3 linked regions of the Homo sapiens genome follow. The protein of the gene in region 3 binds, or shares a complex with, the protein of the main gene of each other region. Each region holds a gene or a part of one and is shown on either strand. Other genes may lie near its edges.

Evidence for each region.
Region 1: MTOR (region 3) and MAPKAP1 share a complex: the UniProt entries of both Homo sapiens proteins name them as parts of the mechanistic target of rapamycin complex.
Region 2: the proteins of MTOR (region 3) and MLST8 are in contact, whole or in part, in a crystal structure (PDB 4JSV), measured with the Homo sapiens proteins. Residues at the interface, in NP_001373429.1 of Homo sapiens: Leu2269, Arg2270, Met2271, Ala2272, Pro2273, Asp2274, His2277, Leu2278, Thr2279, Leu2280, Met2281, Gln2282, Val2284, Glu2285, Val2286, Glu2288, His2289, Asn2292, Asn2293, Glu2536; in NP_001186102.1 of Homo sapiens: Tyr20, His22, Asp42, Ser43, Gln44, Val45, Asn46, Tyr62, Asn87, Glu105, Gln148, Thr174, Arg221, Tyr222, Leu224, Ser268, Arg270, Gly271, Trp272, Trp274, Ser290, Lys313, Val316.

What each region holds. Positions count from the first base shown.
Region 1 is NC_000009.12:125,704,130-125,711,042, forward strand, and holds the start of MAPKAP1 (target of rapamycin complex 2 subunit MAPKAP1), read right to left. Parts: upstream 3,080-6,913; 5' UTR 2,842-3,079; intron 1-2,841. UniProt on the Homo sapiens protein: Component of the mechanistic target of rapamycin complex 2 (mTORC2), which transduces signals from growth factors to pathways involved in proliferation, cytoskeletal organization, lipogenesis and anabolic output.
Region 2 is NC_000016.10:2,201,472-2,208,527, reverse strand, and holds the start of MLST8 (target of rapamycin complex subunit LST8), read right to left. Parts: upstream 3,075-7,056; 5' UTR 3,016-3,074; exon of another isoform or gene 2,841-3,015; coding exon of another isoform or gene 2,653-2,840; intron 2,498-2,652; 5' UTR 2,468-2,497; coding exon of another isoform or gene 2,443-2,467; coding exon 2,314-2,442; intron 2,171-2,313; coding exon 2,119-2,170; exon of another isoform or gene 2,050-2,118; coding exon of another isoform or gene 2,032-2,049; coding exon 1,869-2,031; intron 1,494-1,868; coding exon 1,418-1,493; intron 1,336-1,417; coding exon 1,183-1,335; exon of another isoform or gene 504-1,182; intron 319-503; coding exon 194-318; intron 79-193; coding exon 1-78.
Region 3 is NC_000001.11:11,259,502-11,266,712, forward strand, and holds the start of MTOR (serine/threonine-protein kinase mTOR), read right to left. Parts: upstream 3,051-7,211; 5' UTR 2,944-3,050; intron 1-2,943. UniProt on the Homo sapiens protein: Serine/threonine protein kinase which is a central regulator of cellular metabolism, growth and survival in response to hormones, growth factors, nutrients, energy and stress signals.

The sequences.
Region 1 (6,913 bases), on a different chromosome or scaffold from region 3:
AGGGTCCGCATCCACATCACAAAGAACAAGCAACATGGTGTAGTAATGAAGAGTGCCGATCTCAGTGTTCAGCAGATAATCCCCTCTATCTTACAGCTCTACCAGCAGCATAAACTCAAGGAAGTTATTCAAGGTCTCTGTGCCCCAGTTTCCTCATCTGTAAAATCAGGATGCTAATAACACCTTCTCACACGAGAAAAAAATGAGATAAAGCATTTAACATCACACCAGCAGAGTAAGTACTCATTACCTACCATCATCAGTGTTTCCTTCTCAGTGTTCTATGGTACCTCCTGGGGACTTCTACCTTAGAACCCACAGTACTTTATTATGGTTCACCTGCACACACACAGACATCTCCTCTACTAGAATGTCAATAACCTCAGGATAGGGACCCAATTTTACTTCTTTTTGTATCCCCAAGGTCTAACATTTTGCTTGGCACTGCTGAAATGAATCGTAGATCCTCGAAGTATTTATTAACTGGAAAAGTTATTAGCAGAAACTGGAATTTACCTCCCTTGCCTGGTACTCAAGCCCTCACTGACTCTGACCCCTACCGCCCCTCCAACTTTACGTCCTTGTACCCTGCTAAAAGAAGCAATGACTTGCATGACTCAGGCTGTAAACTCACTCACCAGTCTAAAACCATGCCTCAAGCATTATACCTTTGTATCTTATAGCTATTTATTTCGGGGGACTTTACCACGTACCAGGCCCTTTATCCCCATTAGTTCAATAAATATTCACAACACTCCATGTGGTCAATATTATTCCCTAACCCAACCCCTAGTTGAAGAAAGTGATGCTTGGAGTTATGTGTCGAAGGTCACATATCCTGTAAGAACAGGGACCAGGAATTGAATCCAGAGTCCATGCCTATTTTCTATAGACTGTCTTCTCTGCTCATATTCAAAGCTGAGCTAACTAACCTACCTGCCATCTCCTTGCCTTGGAAGAGCACAGTCTTTACATTTAAAAGATTTCTGTACCATTCATTTTAACATTCATATGTTTTGTCCTATATAACTTTTGGTTTCAATATGTACTTGCATAAAAAGAGGGAGATGATGTGAGAAAAAGGCAAGACATGTAATGGAAAAAGCACAGATTTAGGCATCAGACAGACCTGGGTTTGAATCCTGGCTCTGTCTCCTACCAGCTGTGTAATTTATTATGGGTCTTCCTAATCTGTAAATTGAGGTTAAAATGATTAAACAATAGAAACCCCTATATAATACCCAAATACTCAAAGTTTAGTTTACCTCAAATTATGAAGCATTACCTGGCCACATCCCATCCCTCAAAGGTGAATAACCCATTCCCCTCCCGCACCTACCACTGTCACAAGAACTCTCACACAATGTACTTATCACGGTGTTAGAATTATTCATTTCCCTTATCTCTCTTTCACTAAATTGAGCTCCCTGGCAGCAAAGACTGAATCTTATATTTATCTCTAATTGCCTAGCATGGTACCTGGCATATATATACATATCCATATTCAGTAAACATTTGCTAAGTTAAATAATTGTAGATAAAAATGAGCGCTTATAGAATTCTAGAGGAAAAATCATTTCCAGGTGGGGTTGTCCTGAATTGGTTGGGTGAGGCCAACTCAGCTGAGCCGTGGGAAGCGTCTCAATAGACTGAAAGAGAAAAGGGGAAACCTAGGCAAGGTAGGGAGAATGTTCTACAAAAATCAATGGAATAGGAAAGAACAAAAATGATTAGAGATCCTACTTATTCAGAGTAATGGATCAGGATGGGGTAATTAAAGAAGGAGACCTTTTCAAGCATAACTGGAAAGGTAACCAGGAGCCAGATTAGGAGATGTAAGGGGGTGTAAGTGCAGTCTGGGACACACAGTAGTTGAAGGTAGGCATGAGCACACAGATGAATGGGAAAGGGCTACCAGCATGCCCCAAATCCCGCAGGTGTGTAAACTGAAAAACATGAAAACAATTATTGCTTCATCAAGAACTCTTTCCGTGTTTACTAGGTACCTTGTGTGGGCTCATAAAATATAAGGAATAAAACCCATATCTAGGCTTCTGCTCAAGTGGGTTTTAACATTACGGATCCACCTCTCCTGCTTGTCAGAGAATGAGAACGCTGCTTTTTTTAAACCAATGGGTCTCCATTTGACTCTTCACACCTGGGAAAGTTTTGAACTTTGCCGATTTGGGTTTATAACAACATGGTGCTTTGTACAGTGCCAGGTACTGTGGTGGGCTTCCAAAGTGACTTTCATTCATTCAAAAGGAAGTTTTAACCAATTTCTGAGTCAATTTGGGGGTCTCTGGTTAAAGTCATAATCTTGTTTACGCTACAATCTCTTTTTCCCAGCCTTAAACAAATCTAAATGACTCCTTGCCACTCCCATAAACAAAGAATGAATCAAAGTTCCAGCAGCACTGTAGCTAGAAAAAAGTCTGTAAGGCTGTTAACCTCTTTAAGGGGGAGGGGGAGAAGGGACGCAAGGAAACAAGGACCACACAGTCAATGCTTGAAAACCTTGATTTTCACATTATGAAGACCAGGGCACCTAGATATTGCCAAGTGCAGGCCCAGAAACTGCCGGAGTCAACTACACCCCCCACCCCCACACTACCAGGTCAGCTGGCTTCTTTTCCCCTAAACCACACACCCGCCTCAGACTCCTGACAGCCTCCAGTTCTGGAAATGGCCAGGAAACGAACGCGCCCGGGCCACCTGAACAAGGGCCCGGCAGGCGGCCCGCCGGGCAGCGCTGAAACTGGAGGGGTGAGAGGGCCGCCAGGTGGGCAAGCTGGTGGGCTGACGGACGGGCGGGGAGCTGGCGGCTGGGGCAACCTTTACCTGAAGCTGCTTCCACACTACGGGCCGGGTCGGCCCCGGGACACGTTCCTGAGGGGAGGGCCCGGCTCCCCCACGCCTCCCGGCCCCTGCCCCGAGCTCTGCACTCTCGGGATCCACGGGGACCGGCGCTCCTCCCGGCCCGCTCAGCTGCCGCTTCCCGGGTTAGCCCTCATGCCCCTGCTGCTCGCCGCCGCCGGCCGGCCGAGCAGCAGCCCTATTACCCCGAGCCGCACACGACCCGGAACCACACCCCGGCGTTCCGGAAGTCCCCGACCGGGAAGGAGCCTCTGGCTGGGGACGTAGTGCGCAAGCCCCAGAGCTGAAAGCAAGGAGCGGTAGCTTCCCGCGGGGCGGGGCCGGGAGGGAGGCCGGGCGCATGCGCGCCGCTTCTCCAGTGCAGGGAAAGGCCTGGGTCGGAGACTGAGTTCTGGCAAGATGCGCCAGTGCCTGGACTTGCCTTGAGCAGGAATCAGTGTTAGGCTTCTCCATCGAATCTTCTTTCTCCCCATTTCCACGGAGAAAAGCCCTTAGTTCGTCCAGAAATGAGTGATGAGGCAGCTCAGCCTCTCTGAGAAAGACCTGGGTTCAAATGCCAGCTCTTATAACTTGCTGTGTGTCCTAGGATGTGACACTTCTCTCTGAGCCTCGGGTTTTCCCATCCAGGGCAATAGTTTCAACTTTAGAGTATATTGCTGTGGGAATCGAATGGGATGATGCTTGAAAAACACCCAGCATAGTGCCTGACACATAGTAAACATGCAGTCAATGTTAGTTATTTCTCTTATTATAATATCTGTAATATGGAGGTGACAATAATCTTCCTCAAGCCCTGCTGGGAGGTTTCCAGGAGATGTAGGAGGACTGGCACAGGGCAGAAGTTCAGTGTGTCTCATGCTGCTCCCTTCCTCTCTCACGGAGGAAATCAGTAGAGAAAGCCACGATGAAGGGGGAAAAAGGATTCAGGGAGTGCAGTGAGAGTGGTTCTCCCACCTGAAAGATGCTTGGGGAAGTCTCTCAAAAACGCACCTTAGCAAAAGAAAAAACTCAAGGTTGAATTTCAGCCCTGAGGGACCCCTGCCCAATTTTAAACTTATTAATAAATATGCCATGGGGCCAGGCACGGTGGCTCACACCTGTAATCCCAGCACTTTGGGAGGCCGAGGAGGGCAGATCACTTGAGATCAGGAGTTCGAGACCAGCCTGGCCAACATGGTGAAACCCTGTCTCTACTAAAAATACAAAAATTAGTCTGGCGTGGTGGTGTGCACCTGTAGTCCCAGCTACTCAGGAGACTGAGGCAGGAGAATGGCTTGAACCCGGGAGGCAGAGGTTGCAGTGACCCAAGATCAGGCCACTGCACTCCAGCCTGGGTGACAGAGACTCTGTCTCAAAACAAAAAAACAAAAAACACGGTGGGTCTACCCATGTATTTCAAATATGGTCATCCATCACTTAATGATGAGGACACAAGAAATGCATCGTTAGCTGATTTTGTGGTTGTGTAAACATCATAGACTGTACTTACACAATGTCAGAGCCTACTACACACCTAGGCTGTTTGGTATTAGCCTATTGCTTCTAGGCTGCACACCTGTACAGCATGTTACTGTACCATATACTGTAGGCAATTCTAACACAATGGTATTTGTGTATCTAAACATCTCTAAATGCAGAAAAGGTACAATTAAAAGACCATGTTATAATCTTAGGGGACCACCATCATATGCACTCTGTCATTGACCAAAACATCCTCATTCCACGCATGACCATATGTGATTGATCTCTTACTACATCCCATTACTTTATGTAATTGGTATCTTACCACATATCTATACTGGGGGAATAGTGCACCTCAGCACCCAGACACACTCTTGCACACACACCACCACAGTTCCATCAGGGACCTGTCAGAGGCACTCTAACAAAGCAGCAGGTGTGAACAAGTTTGGATATTTGATTTTCTGAGGTCACCAGGTTATCTGTTCCTTCCTAAATCTTACTCTCCATTTTCCTCTCTCTCTCTCTCGAGTTCCAATCTGAAGCACAGCTGCCTGACTGTCTCCTAGACACATAAAACTCGACCTATCTAAAACTGCTAAGCAGTTATAGATTCTAAAGAGTAAATATTTCCTAGCACTTTGAGAGACCAAGGCAGGAAGATCATCTGAGCCCAGGAGTTCAAGACCAGCCTAGGCAACATGGTGAGACCCCATCACTACCTTAAAAAATTTATCTCTATATAGGCCGGGCACGGTGGCTCATGCCTGTAATCCCAGCACTTTGGGAGGCCAAGGGGTGCGGATCACAAGGTCAGAAGATCAAGACCATCCTGTCTTAACATGGTGAAACCCTGTCTCTACTAAAAAAAAAAAAAAAAAAATACGAAAAATTAGCCAGGCATGTGGCACACACCTGTAGTCCCAGCTACTTGAGAGGCTGAGGCAGGAGAATCGCTTGAACCTGGGAGGTGAAGGTTGCAGTGAGCACACCACTGCAGCCCAGCCTGGACAACAGAGTGAGAGTCTGTCTCAAAAAAATAAAAAATAAAAAAATATATATATACACACACATATACACATATATTTTTTTTAGCCAGGTGTGGTGGTGAATGCCTGTAGTCCTAGCTGCTTGGGAGGCTGAGATGGGATGATTGCTTGAGCCCTGGGAGGTCAAGGCTGCAGTGAGACGTGATCATGCCACTGCACTCCAGCCTGGATGAAAGAGCAATGCCCTGTCTTGAAAAAAAAATTAGAAAAATAAAAAGTGAATACTCACTCTGCCACTTACAAGTTTTGTGACTTCATCTCTCCAAGTTGCTTCTCTAAATATTCTTATCTTTACCTGGAAAATGGGAATGACAGAAGTCCTACATAACCTCATTAGTTTGTTGCAAGGATAGAATGACCTAATACATGTAGCTTACATATAACAGAGCCTGGCATGTGACTATTATTTACTAATGCCTACCAGTATGAGTATACCTCAGTCAGTAAGCAATACTTATTGAGTGCCTATTGAGATTCAGTGGTGAAAAAGCCAGACGGGGACCCTACCCTTAAGAAGCCTTGTAGTCAAGTTCGACTATGGGTTTGAAATACTGTAGTTACTGTGGTAAGTTGGCATGCAGTGATATATGGTAGGATTTCAAGGACAGTATTGAGGGCCCAGTTGAGAATGGAGACTAAATGTATGGTGATACTAATATGATGGCTAGTGTGATTATTCTATAGCTAGTTGGAGCAGTCACGATACACACACCCAAAGAATGAGAAGTTGGATTGATCCAAGGAAGGATTTTGCCAGACAGGTGTGATGGGGTCATATCAGCTTTTAAGAGTGCTTAAAACAATGAGCCATAGAAAGTATGCTGGATAGGGAAGCAAGAGAATTCCAGAAAAACAGGTATCACTGGCCTAAAGGTCTCAAATAGATGTAATGGAAGTCACTGATGAAGGAAAGCAGAAGGATGGAGGTTATTGTCACAGATGGATGTTTCAACAAATAACCTCAGAGGAGGAGCCATGTGAGAGGGGGTCCCAGCTAAAGTGGAATGGGGGGAAAATCACTGAAGATGAGATAGTCAAGGAACTGAGATCCTTGTGAACGTCCATCCCAAGATGGTGGACAGACATGGGGTGAAAAGGAAACCAGACGTGCTCCCCATGGCATCTGCAACTGAGGAACAGCACTGGGGAGGTAGATGAGGAGGAGAGAGGAGAAACTAATTGGATGGCATGAGCCTCCAAGAAGCAGGAGTTGTATTGGTGGAAGTGTCATTAAAGCATACATTGACCTGTCTCCTGACCTGGGGTGTACAGTGGTAGGACCATGAGAGCTAACACACATACAAATTTTTTTTTTTTTTTTGAGATGAAGTCTCGCTCTGTCGCCAGGCTAGAGTGCAGTGGCACGATCTCAGCTCACTGTAACCTCCGCCTCCCAGGTTCAAGCCATTCTCCTGTCCCAGCCTCCCGAATAGCTGGGACTACAGGTGCCCGCCACCATACCCGGCAAATTTTTCTATTTTTAGTAGAGACGGGGTTTCACCATGTTGGCCAGGTTGGTCTCGATC
Region 2 (7,056 bases), on a different chromosome or scaffold from region 3:
CTCAGCTCCGTCATCAGGGAGAAGTTGGACGTCCTCCAGATCTTGCACGTCTGATCAGCCGAGCAGGTGGCGAGGAGCCTAGTGGGTGGGCATGGGGCGTGTCCAGCAGCAGCCACTCCATCCAGCAGCCCCTCCCCTCTCCAGCCCCCAGCCCAGGCAGGTCCCCTCCCGGGCCAGCAGGCCCTGCACGCACGTGGAGTCGGGGCTGAAGCGACACTGCAGGGCGTAGCGCGTGTGGGCAGGGATCTTAGTCTTGGGGATGAGCTGGGTCACCTCGTCACCAATGCCCCCCGTCAGATTCCAGACATAGCAGTTTCCCTAGAGGTCAGGAGGACCGTCACGGAGGGCCCAAGGCCTCAGGTCTGAGACACAGGGAAGGATGCCCTGGGGGCCAACACTGGGGGCCAACTGTGCATGGGGACCCCGGGTGAGGGGCAGGCAGGCCCCTCTGGTCCTGCCTGCAGAAGGCACCTGGGAAGCCTGGCCCCAAGCAAGGGCCACACCTGGCAAGCCAAGAACAGGAGGCCACGCCTGGCCAAGGACTCAAATTCTCCTTCCTGGAGGATGCCGATGGCCAACGGAAGTAGACAGGAGAAGGGCACCAGCTAGAGAGACAGCATGACAAAGGCCAGCAGAAGGGAAATCCGGGGGCAAGAGGTACAAGTGATGCACTGGGATTAAATGAAGTTAATGAAAAAAAATGAGGCTGGAGAGAAGAGCAGGGGCCACGCCACAGCAGCCTACGGGCGAGGCCAGCAGCCCCGGGTCTCCTCAGGGGAATGACGCCACCTGGCTGATACTGACCAGGCACCACTAGAAGCATCCAAGAGAGAACGTGTCAGGGGCCAGGGGAGGTCAGGGAGGGGGAAAGGAAGCCTCAGAGAGTGTGTCAGCCGTCACCAGAAACAAGGGTGACTGGGACCAGGAGGCAACAGAGTGAAAAGAGGGAAGTGGATCGACTTGGGAGAGACTCCAGAAAGCGGAGTGACCGACCTGCAGACAGGACTAAGCCATCGGGAGCGACACTAAGGCTTCTGGCTTTGCTGGCAAGGTGGGTGTTAGTGCCCGGGATGGGGAAAGCAGGAGGGGGCCGCTAAGGGACATCCAGGAATAAGCCCACCTGCAGAGGCTGAGGGCTGAGTGCCAAGCTGCCCGCACCCAGCACCTGCCACCAGGACTCACGGTGCTATTGACAGCTGCCATGTAGCTGGCGTCGGGATCGATGTGGGCGGACGTGATGGAGACCTCGGGCTCAGGGATCAGCTGCTCGTTGTGGTCTGTTTTCAAGTCCCAGATGTGGATAGCCCCGCTCTGGTCACCCACGATGAGCTCTGCCTGGGGTGCAGGGGTGGTGAGGCAGGGCCCAAGCCCAGCCCTCCAAAGTCCCAGGGTGCCTGGCCCCATGAGCACCCCTCACCTGGTTGGGGTGCAGGCACACGCAGTTAATGGGTGCGTTCACCTGGAAGATCCGCTGGCACTGCAGGTTCCGGGACCTGCGGGCCGGGCCGGGGCACATGCTGTCCATCTGGGCTTGTTGGTGCCCTACCCAGATGGCCTCGGCCTGGCCATTCCTCCCCTCCCTCTGCTGAAGGACCTGCCTCTTGGGAAATACTTGGGACGCAGGGCCCTCTGCTCCAGCAGGGAGCCTAAGCCAGTGGCTGGTGGAAGGGGAATAACAAGCTGGCTCCGGGCTCAAGGCAGGACTCGCGCTCTGATGCAATTCACTCTCCTCCTGTCCTCACTTCTCTCAGTAAGTCGCCCACAGGAAGCTCCCTGTCTCAGCCTCTGCTTGAAGAGAACCCAACCTAAAACGGTCTCCCAGAGCAGCCCACCCCAGCCCCGGGCAGCACGCCCCCTCCCCACCGCACCTGAGGTCCCAGATCCTGGCTGTGCAGTCCTCGCCGCCCGTGTACATCCAGCGGCCGTCTTCGTGGAAGCCCACAGACGCGATGTTCTTGTTGACGCCGTCGTAGCTGATGATGGGGTTAGGGTTATTGGAGTTGAGATCATACATGCGGATGTGCTGGTAACCTAGGGACACAGGCTGAACTGAAGCTTGGCTGTGCTGAGGTCGACCCACCAGAGCTCAGGAGTTTAGAGATCAAGGATCACAGATACCTGCAGCAGCAATCATGCTGCGGTCCGGTGTGACCTCCAAGGCATTCACCTGCTGGGACTGTTAAGGAGGATGACGGGAAGGTAGCCCTGAGGCCAGGGCCCCCCAGGCCTCCACCATCTGGCCTTCACACAGGCTGTGGTCCCCACACGAGGCATCCCCCCAGCGCCGCCCTGCCCGCCCCGGGTGGAGGATACGGAGTCCTGGTGCTGCACCGTCCGGGTGCAGATGCCGCTGTGGGCCTGCCAGAAGCGCACGGTGTGGTCGTAGCCTGCAGTGGCCAGGATGACCGGGTCACTGCCCACCGTGCCTGGGGAGGTGTTCATGGTGTGGCCTGCACGGGCCCTAGAGCTGAACGGCAGGGGTCAAAGGTCAGAGCATCTGCAGAGAAGGATGTGAAGTACTTAGAAGACACTCTCTGTGCTAAGTAGATTATAGACCCACAAGGCGCTGCCGAATGGCGCTTATCATTCCCATTTTAGAGTTGGGACAAGAAGCGCAGGTAGGTTCAGGGACACGCGTCACACGCGTGATACCTGGCTCCGGGGCTCCAGGGCGCGTGCTCCATCCCCGCCCCACGCACACGGCGGGGGCGCCGTCCCCCCCCCACCTCCGCAGCCGGCAGGGGGGAGTCACGCGCGGGCGCCACTCTGCCGCAGGGGCGGGCTGCGCGTGCGCAAGGCGGCGGATGGGCCGGGGAAAGCCGAGCGCTGCGGCTGCGCATGCGTAGCAGGCCAGCGGCAGGCCCTGATGGGAAAGGGCGCAGTCTGGCTGGACCCCCGAGCTCCCCTTTCCTCCGGTGACCGCCCTTGCTCCGTCCTGCTGGCCGGCTTCCCCTGGCCGTGCTCTCCCAGCCACCCAGCAGCCGGTTCCCGGCCCCTGGCTCGCGGCCTCCGTACCTTACGGGCGGCTCCGCACTCCGCCGTGTCCAGGACGGCGAGGGGAGCCGGAGCGAGTCGATCGAGGCCGAGCGTAGAGTTATCGATGGCTCCCTAGGGCGAGACCATGGCGCGGGCGGGGGTGGGTGGGACGAGACCAAAGTTCTGGGGCGGGGGGTTCCCGCCGGGAGGAACTCGGAGCGGTCCCCGTGCGCGGCCGCGGGCCCGGCGCGAGGTGGAAGGAAGCTGCGGCTTTCTCTCCGGCCTCCTGCCCACTGGCACCTGCCCTTCTGACACGGCTGTCCGTTTCCCGGGCTGTCGGGTCGCGCTGTTCCGGTGCCCTCCCTGACCCACTACTGCGCCACGCTGGGCTAGGATTGGCTGAAAATTACAGGACTTGAATTCAGACAAGTAACGAATAATTTTTTTTTTAGTGTAAGTATATCCAGGACATTGCATGGGAAATACTTATGCTAAAAAAATTTTATTGGGTATCCTGTAGTTTTACTTGCTAGATCTGGCACCCCAGCCCCAGCCTGACCCTCAGGACATCCCACTGAGCCCAGGGTCCCCCTCAAAACCACAGGCCCTCATTCCAGCTCTGTGAGCTCCACGCCGGTGCCCTCACCCTTGAGACAGGCTGTCGCATGGTTTTTTCCTGCTGCTCTTACAGACCTGGCTGCACCCCTTCCTCTGGCCGCAGAGGGGGTGCATCTTGTCCCTTGACCAGGCCATAGTTCCCATGGAGCCTTCCTTCCTATACCTTCACCTCCTCTCCTTCCTGCCGGTTAGCCTTTAAAAAAACACCATAAAACAATCCCAAATTATCTTCTTCAAAGAGCGGTCCTCACCATTTTTCTAGTTCCACGTCCTCACCTCCCACTCATTCCGCAACCCCAGTCATCTGCCTTTTACCCCCAGCTCTCTAGCTCTCCAGTGGAAATTCCTCAAGGTCACTGACAATCTCACTTTGCTAAATCCAGTGGATACTTTTCCTTCTTCCCACCTTTTTTTTTTTTTTCTCTCGAGACAGAGTCTCGCTTTCTCGCCCAGGCTGGAGTGCAGTGGTGCAATCTCGACTCACTGCAAAACCTCTGCCTCCCAGGTTCAAGCGATTTTCCTGCCTCAGCCTCCCGAGTAGCTGGGATTACAGGCACGCACCACCACACCTGGCTGATTTTTGTATTTTTAGTGGAGACGGGATTTCACCATGTTCGCAAGGCTGGTCTCAAACTCCTGACCTCAAGTGATCCGCCTACCTCAGCCTCCCAAAGTGCTGGGATTACAGGCGTGAGCCACTGCGCCCGGCCTCTTCCCACTTCTTCTTTCTTTTTTTTTTTTTTTTTATTGAGACGGAGTCTCGCTTTGTTGCCAGGCTGGAGTGCAGTGGTGCGATCTCGGCTCTCCACAATCTCCACCTCCCGGGTTCAAGCTATTCTCCTGCCTCAGCCTCCCGGGTAGCTGGGATTACAGGTGCATGCCACCACACCCAGTTAATTTTTCTATTTTTAGTAGAGACAGACTTTTCACCATGTTGGCCAGGATGGTGGATGGTCTTGATCTCGTGACCTCGTGATCCGCCCCCCTCAGCCTCCCAAAGTGCTGGGATTACAGGCGTGAGCCACTGCGCCCGGCCCCCTCCCACTTCTTGACGCATCTGAGCCATGGTTGACGGCACCATGCCTGAAAGGCTGCCTTCTCCTAGCTCCTGTCCCCGACATTTAGTCTCTTTCCCTGCCTGCCCGCAAGGACTCAGGCCCTTCAGCATTCACTCTGTGCACCCCACGAGATACCAGGGGGCTGATGACTGCTAGCTCTGGAGCTTCCAATGCTGTCCCTGTCCTGGGCCCCTTCCACCCTGTCTCCAGCTCTGATGGCCTCAGCTCCCTGTTAAGACACTGTCCCTTGAATGCCCCGCAGGGTCCACCATATTCCAGGGCCAAGACAACCCATCCCTGAGTAGCTCCCCTTCTGTGGGCAGTGCCCACCTTGTATTACAGCTGGGCAAGATCCGACACCTCCCCTCCCTCACCCTTCCCTTCCCTTCAGCCACCGATTTTACCTGTGATATACCTTCCTGTCCTTTCCACTGCCCTGGTTCTAGCTCACCACCCCCATCCCCCATAAAAGCCTCCTTCCTTGCCCCAGCCACTCTGGCCCCCTTCCAAACTGTCCACCACAGTGCAGAATGGCCTTTTATTTATTTATTTATTTATTTATTTATTTATTTATTTATTTTTGAGACGGATTTTCACTCTTGTTGCCCAGGCTGGAGTGCAATGGCGCGATCTCGACTCGCTGCAACCTCCACCTCCTGGGTTCCTCAGTCTCCTGAGTAGCTGGGATTACAGGCATGCACCACCATCCCAGCTAATTTTGTATTTTTAGTAGAGACAGGGTTTCTCCATGTTGGTCAGGCTGGTCTTGAATTCCTAACCTCAAGTGACCCACCCACCTCAGCTTCTCAAAGTGCTAGGTTTACAGGCGTGAGCCATCGCGCCCGGCCAGAGTGGCCTTTTAAAAACCTCAGTCTGAGCCCAGCACAGTGATTCATGCCTGTAATCCCAGCACTTTCGAAGGCTGAGGCAGGAGGATCACTCGAGCCCAGAAGTTCAAGACCATCCTGAACAATATAGTGATACCCCATCTCTACAAAAAATTTAAAAATTAGTCAGGAATGGTGGTGCGTGCCTGTGGTCCCAGCTTTGGGAGGCTGAGGTGGAAGGATCACTCGAGGCCAGGAACTCGAGGCTGCAGTAAGCTGTGGTTGAGCCACTGCACTCCAGGCTGGGTGACAGAGCAAGACCTTTTCTCAAAACAAAACAAAAACCCCCAGCAAAACCTAGGAATGACTTGATCACCCCATTAGAAGCCCTCAGGGGTCCCTGTCCCTCTCCAGACTCCTGGGCCTGGCCCTGGCCCTGGCCCATCCTGTGGCTTCCATCTCCTCTCCATGTGATACCATTAGGCTTTGTGTCCCCACCCAAATCTCGTCTTGAATTGTAATCCCCATAATCCCCATGTGTCAAAGGAGAGACCAGGTGGAGGTAACTGAATCATGAGGGCAGGTTCCCCCATGCCGTTCTCATGATAGTGAGTGAGATCTCAAGAGATCTGATGGTTTTATAAGGGGTTCCTCCTCCTTTGCTCCACTTCTCCTTCCTGCCGCCTTGCGGAGAAGGTGCCTTGCTTCCGCTTCGCCTTCCGCCATGATTGTAACTTTCCTGAGGCCTCCCCAGCCATGCTGAACTGTGAGTCAACTACACCTCTTTCCTTTATAAATTATCCAGTCTCAGGTGTTCTTTATTGCAGTATGAAAATGGACTAATACTCCATGGGTCCTGTACTCTGGCCAAAGGAGACATGTTCTCCTCTTTTGTTTTCTTTTGTTTTGTTTTTCAGACGGAATCTCACACTGCTGACGGGGATGGAGTGCAATGGCGCAATCTCGGCTCACTGCAACCTCTGCCTCCTGGGTTCAAGCAATTCTCCTGCCTCAGACTCCTCCCAAGTAGCTGAGATTACAGGCACCCCGCACCACGCCTGGCTACCTTTTTGTATTTATAGGAGAGACGGGGTTTCACCATATTGGCCAGGCTGGTTTCGAACTCCTGATCTCGTGATCTGCCGCCTCGGCCTCCCAAAGTGCTAGGATTACAGGCGTGAGCCACAGCACCTGGCCATGTTCTCCCCTTTGAGCCCTTGACTGTGTCTGGGATGCTTTTCCCTCTACGCCTTACCTGCCAAATTCCTGGTTTTCAGCATATCTAGTAACATTTTCTTTTGGCTGGGCATGGTAGCTCACACCTGTAATCCCAGCACTTTGGGGGATCGAGGTGGGAGGATCGCTTGATCCTAGGAGTTTGAGGCTAACCTGGGCAAGATGGCAAGATGACCTCTTCTCTGCAAAAACCTTAAAAAAAATTAGCTAAGTGTAGGCCAGGCGCGGTGGCTCACGCCTGTAATCCCAGCACTTTGGGAGGCCGAGGCCAGTGGATCACGAGGTCAAGAGATTGAGACCATCCTGGCCAACATGGTGAAACCCCATCTCTACTAAAAATA
Region 3 (7,211 bases):
ACAGATCTCCCCCTAGCCCTTGTCAGGCAGGGGATTCTAAAAAGGTTGAGAGATCTGATTGAGGAACATTTAGAAAGCCTAGATTCATTAAACAATGACTGATGTTTAAAAGAGGCAGTGTAGTAGGGAGGTTAAATTGTGGGCTATCGGCCTAGCCTACTTGGGTTTGAATCCTTGGGTTATATACCTTGAGCAGTTTGGGAGGCTGAGCCTGGAGGACCACCTGAGGTCAGGAATTTGAGACCAGCCTGCCCAACATGGTGAAAACCCATCTCTATGAAAAATACAAAAATTAGCTGGGCGTGGTGGCATGTGTCACCCAGGAGGCTGAGGCAGGAGAATCCCTTGAACCTGGGAGGTAGAGGCTGCAGTGAGCCGAGATCCTGCCACTGCACTGTCTCAAAACAAAAACAAACGAAAACAAAAACAAGGTTATATACCTCAAGAAAGACACTCAAAATGTGTTTCTTCAACTACAATAGGAAGATAATAGTACCTAGTTCATGGGTTGATGTGAGAACTAAATGACTTAATACGTGTCAAAAAGTGTTTAAAACAGTGCAGGGCATATACTAAGTTCTTAATAATTGTTAGCTATTATTATTACTACTACTACTACTATGTACATGGCAAAATGCCAGGTAACAAATGTCAGGAGGTAGGGAAAGAATTAAAAATGACTAAGACTGCCCCTTTCCTCAAGTTCAGTCTAAAAAGAGAGATTATTATTCTACAGCAGCACTATCTAATGGAAATTTAGGCCGGGCACAGTGGCTCACGCCTGTAATCCCGGCACTTTGGGAGCCCAAGGTGGGCAGATCACCTGAGGTCAGGAGTTTGAGACCAGCCTGGGCAATATGGTGAAACCCCGTCTCTACTAAAAATACAAAATTAGCCAGGCGTGGCAGTGCGTGCCTGTAACCCCAGCTACTTGGGAGGTTGAGGCAGGAGAATCACTTGAACCCAGGAGGCAGAGGTTGCAGTGAGCTGAGATTGGGCCATTGCACTACAGCCTGGGCAACAAGAGCAAAACTCCATCTCAATTAAAAAAAAAAAAAAGAGGAAATACAATGATCCACAAATGTAATTTTAAGGCTGCTTGTAGCCATATTTTAAAAGGTAAAAAGAAACAGGTGAAATTAATTACCTAAACCAATATATCCAAAATATCATTTCAACATGTTATCAATATTTAAAAAATTGATATAGTGTCCATTCTTTTTTTTTAGCGAGTCTTCAAAATCTAATGTGCATTTTACACTTACAACAATGTCAATTTGGACTAGTCATTTTTTTTTTTTTTTTTGAGACAGAGTCTCGCTCTGTCACCCAGGCTGGAGTGCAGTGGCATGATCTCGGCTCACTGCAACATCCACCTCCCGGGTTCAAATGATTCTCCTGCCTCAGCTTCCCGAGTAGCTGGGACTACAGATGTGCAGCACCACGCCTGGCTAATTTTTGTGTGTTTTTAGTAGAGATGGGGTTTTATTATGTTGGCCAGGCTGGTCTCAAATTCCTGACCTCAGGTGATCTGCCCGCCTTGGCCTCCCAAAGTGCTGGGATTACAGGTGTGAGCCACCATGCCCGGCCTGGACTAGTCACATTTCAAGTGCTCCACAGCCACATGTGGCTGGTGGTTCTTGTACTGAACAACGCAGTTCTACAGGGGACTAGCTCTTCAAATGTAAGCTAAAAGAAAGTAATTAGTTCCTGGCCGGGTTTGGGAGGCCGAGGCGGGCGGATCACGAGGTCAGGAAATCGAGACCATCCTGGCCAACACGGTGAAATCCCGCCTCTACTAAAAATACAAAAAAAAAAAAAAATTAGCCGTATGGTGGCGGGCGCCTGTAGTCCCAGCTACTCGGGAGGCTGAGGCAGGAGAATGGCGGGAACCCGGGAGGCGGAGCTTGCAGTGAGCAGAGATCGAGCCACTGCACTCCAGCCTGGGCGACAGAGCGAAACTCCGTCTCAAAACAAAACAAAAAACACCAATTAGTTCCTGAGCTCATTCCCTCATTCCTCAATTATGCCCACACTGCCATGGGTGTAACATACACCTATCCCAAGTATGTTCAGCTTATGCTACAAAACCAATTTCTCAAAATTCTTATTTTTGAAAGAATTTGTAAGGCACAGAGGAAAAACCTGGGAATAATTGGTTTTGTAAAGCTTTCAAATACTCCACTGCCAAGAAGAAGACTGCAGAAAGAAATGTCATCCTTTAGGGGAGAAGAAACTTAAGAATCCCTGCTAAGAAAACTACTCCAGTTTGTGTGTATGTGTGTGCGTCCGAAAGGGGGGAAGGTGGCTGGCAAGGGATTTCTATTCTCAGGAAAGAACCAGTGTATCTTTATATGATCTGAGGCCCACAGGCCATCTGCTCCAGACTGAATTCAATTAAACTTAGGATATCTGAAGTCAAATATCCTAATGGTGTTGATAGGGCTTAAGGAAGTTAAGATTGGATGGGGGAAACAGGGATGGGGCTGGGGGAGAGGGAGAGAAGATGTACCCCAACGATGTAACCAAGCTCAGTTTCGGGGACTGGATCTCTGAGAGGTGTCCACAGTGGAGGACAAGGGGCTGACACGGACGCTAGTGTTCCCTGGGGCAGAGATACACAATTTTTATACGTGGCTCAAAAGAAAGGGTGGCTGTGACAGGCAAAAGACCCAAAGGGCAATACCAGAGCTGATGGGCCGGCCTTCGGGCGGACGTACCGCGGGCCGAAGGGTCCAGGGGTCTCTTGGGGGTCCCGGGGAGGTGGGCGTTGCCTCGAGGGGTGGGAGTCAAGGCCTCAGACGGTGCCCAGGTCGTGGGGCCGGCAATGTGGGGACCCCACGTCCCAGACGGGCGGCTTCCCCTGGCCCCCCCACGGGCAGGCTGGCCGTGGGTCTGGACATTACGCCGCCCTAGAGGGGTCGTGCCAGGCCCTAGACTCACCGCGCGGCTTCGGCCAAGGCCTCAGCTGCCGCCGCCAGCACCGGTACCGCCGCTTCAGGCCCCCTGCCCCACCGCCCGCCTTCCCCGCTGTCCTCTAAGCCGGGAGCGAGGGAAGGAGGGTTCCCAGCCCTGAGGACCAATCGACAGGTATAGGGAGAAGATGGACTGAAAAACAGGCCAATAGTAATGAAGAAGAGAAGCTTCAGGACCCGGCTTCTCCAGGGGGCGGGGACTGTTCAAATAGACAAACCACGCGGCCAGTGGCAGGTGAAAACAGGCTTGGGTCCACTCGGGAGAACCAATCGGTCGTGAGTTCACCTCAGTCACTTCCACTCACACATCCGGTACGGCGCTGCTAGGATTCCCTTCTGCATCCGGGCTGTGAACTCAAGGAGTCCGGTGTCTGGGTATCTCCGGATCGCAGCGAGAGCGGCTAGCAGAGGTTCGCGACCCCTCCCGGTGTAATTCTGAGAGGAGAATGTGAGCGATGCCGGTGCCCAGGAATTACTGCATCAAAAGACGTTTCGGGCTAGCGCTCTTTATGGATCCTGTGATATCTCTTTTGTTACAATTAATAAGCATTTGAAAATGTTTTTAATTAGATTCTCTAACTTTCCCAAAATTATCCAACTCAGGATCACTCCAGAGAAACCATAGCCAAGTTTTAACCAAAAGAGCTAGTCATAAATAAAAATTTTCAAAGCAACATTATTTTTTAAAAATCCTTTCAAAAAATCAATAGCTGGCCCGGCGCGGTGGCTCACGCCCATAATTCCAGCACTTTGGGAGACCGAGGCAGGCGGATCACCGTAGGTCAGGAGTCGAGACCAGCCTGGTCAACATGGTGAAATTCCCCCACCCGCACCCCCCGTCTCTACTGAAAATACAAAAATTAGCTGGGCATGGTGGCTCACGCCTGTAATCCCAGATACTCGGGAGGCTGAGGCACGAGTATCGCCTGAACCCGGGAGGTGAAGGTTGCATGCACCGAGATCGTGCCACTGCACTCTAGCCTGGGCAACAGAGCAAGCTCCGTCTCAATACATACATACACACACACACACACACACACACACACACACACACACACAACCAAAGAAAATAAATAACTGCTGGTCACGGTGGCCCACGCACTTTGGGAGGCCAAAGCAGGAGGATCGCTTGAGGCCAGGAGTTCCAGACCAGCCTGGGCAACATAGCGAGACGATGTCTCTACAGATTAAAAAAAAAAAAATCAACAGCAAAAGTGGATTTGACTACATTTTTTTTTAATCACAGTGCTATTTGTCATAGTAAACACTGAAAATTCCTAAATATTTCAAAGTAGGAGTCCAATAAAATATGATGCATTCGTTTGGGCGCGGTGGCTCACACCTGTAATCCCAGCACTTTGGGAGGCCGAGGCGGGCGGATCATGAGGTCAGGAGTTTGAGACCAGCTTGACCAACATAGTGAAACCCCGTCTTTACTAAAAATACAAAAAAAAAAAAAAAAAGGTAGGCGTGGTGGCAGGTGCCTGTAATGCCAGCTACTCAGGAGGCTGAGATAGGAAAATCCCTTGAAGCCAGCAGGCGGAGGTTGCAGTGAGCCGAGATCGCGCCACTGCGCTCCAGCTGGGGTGACAGTGCGAGACTCCATCTCAAAAAAAAAAAAAAAAAAAAAAAAAGATGCATTCATAATAAGAAAAATACATAGCCATTAATAATTATAATTTAGAGCCTAGCATGGTGGCTCATCCCTGGAATCCCAGCACTTTGGGAGGCCGAGGCAGGATTGCTTGAGGCCAGGAGTTCCAGACCAGCCTGAGCAACATAGTGAGACCCTTGTCTCTACAAAAGAAATTTAAAAATTAGCTGTGTGTGGTAGCACATGCCTGTAGTCCCAGCTACTTGGAAGGCTGAGGCACGAGAATCACTTGAGTCTATGACTTCAAGGTTGCAGTCATCTGTGATCTCCACTGCACTGCAGCCTGGGCAGCAGAGAAAGATCCTGTCTCAAATAATAATAATAACAATAAATAGTGGTAATTAGATGAATATTTGCTAAGAAGGAAAAGGTTCACAACTAGTTTAAAAATTACAAGTTGTGCAACAATGTAAGTATAATACAACCATTTACAAAAATATTTATGCATTTCTTATATGTCTCTGTTTACATGGGGGAAATGTGCACAACTAAGATGTAATTTGGGAAAGACACACTTTTTTTCTTTATACATTATCAATTACTTATGTAATAAAAACAAGTGAAGGTAGAAGAAATGAGTTTTCAGAAGGTCTAAACTGCCAAATTAAAGATAGTTGGGCTGGGTGCGGTGGCTCACACCTGTAATCCCAGCACTTTGGGAGGCCAAAGCAGGAAGATTGCATGAGCCCAGGCATTTGAGACCAGCCTGGGCAACATAGTGAGACTCCATCTCAAATAAATAAATAAATAAACAAATAAAGATGTCAATATTCCGTGGCTAACAAAATGCTTTGTTTGGCAGGGTTTTTGTTGTTGTTGTTGTTATTGTTAATATCTATGATATTGGCCAGGCACAGTGACCCAACACTTTGGGAGGCTGAGGCAGGTGGATTGTTTGAGCCCACCTGGGCAACATGGTGAAACCTCATCTCTACAAAAAATGCAAAAAATTAGTTGGTGTGGTGGCATGCACCTGTGGTCCCAGCTACTTAAGAGGTTGAGGTGGGAGGATCACTTGAGCCCAGGAGGTCAAGGCTGCAGTGAGCTGTGATCTCACCACTGCACCACTGCATTCCATCCTGAGTTGACAGAGTGAGACACTGTCTCAAAAAAAAAAAATTATATATATATATATATAAATATATATATATATATAATTGCTCCTTTTTTTTGAGACAGAATCTTACTCTGTCACCCAGGCTGGAGTGCAGGGGAGCCATCTCACCTCACTGCAACCTCTGCCTCCCAGGTTTAAGCGATTCTCTTGCCTCAGCCTCTCGAGTAATAATGGCTACTTTAGATTTAGCCTCTTTTCATTGCTCCTGTGAGATAAGTATTCCTCTAAATTTTACATTTTCACTGATGTTCAATTTTTTTTTTTTTTTTTTTTTTTAGATGGAGTCTCGTTCTGGTACCCAGGCAGGAGTGCAGTGGCGCAATCTCGGCTCACTACAACCACCGCCTCCTGGGTTCAAGTGATTCTCGTGCCTCAGCCTCCTGAGTAGCTGGGATTACAGGCACCTGCCACCACACCCAGCTAATTTTTGTATTTTTAGTAGAGACAGGGTTTCGCCATGTTGGCCAGGCTGGTCTTGAACTCCTGACCTCAGGTGATCCGCCTGCTTCAGCCTCCCAAAGTGCTGGGATTACAGGCGTGAGCCATTGTGCCTGGCCCAACATCTATATTTTTATCATTAAAAGCTTCTAATATGCAATATAGTCGCTATTCAAATCTCAAAATAAACAAGTTACATTTATCATGAAAAGTCTTGCTCCACCCTTGCCCCTTGACTATGTATTTTCTCAGTTTCTTATGCATCCCTAGATTTTCTGTCTGCAAAAACAAGCAAATATATACGTATGTATATTCCTTTTTTTTTTTTTTTTTTTTTTTGAGACAGAGTCTCACTCTGTCGCCCAGGCTGGAGTGCAGTGGCATGATCTTGGCTCACTGCAACCTCTGCCTCCCAGGTTAAAGTGATTCTCCTGCCTCAGCTTCCCCAATAGCTGGGATTACATGTCTGTGCCATCATGCGTGGCTAATTTTTTTATTTTTAGTAGAGACAAGGTTTCACCACATTGGCCAAGCTGGTCTCAAACTCCTGACCTCAGTTGATCCGCTTGCCTCAGCCTCCCAAAATGCTAGGATTACAGGCACGAGCCACCATGCCCAGCCCATACATATATTTTTATTTTCCCCTTTTGTTATACTATACGCACTATTTTGCATTTTTAAAATTTTACTGCATCTTGTAGATCTTTCTCTTGTAGTTCCAACAGGATTCTATGCCTGCTGCACAGCAACAGTTGACCAATGCAATGAGACAGCAGAGTCTGCAGCAGAGAAAGAGTTTAGTGATCGCAGGGCAGCCAACTGAGGAGATGGGAGTGTTACCAGCGCTGAATTTACATGGTCTGCAGCAAGCTCAGTTCTTGCCTCCTCAGAAGAAAGAATTCAACTGAGGGGCATAAGGCAGAGTGAGAGACTGAGGCAAGTTTTAGAACAGGAGCGAAGTTTATTAAAGAGCTTTAGAGCAGGAATGAAAGGAAGTAAAGGACACTTGGAAGAGAACCAAGCAGTT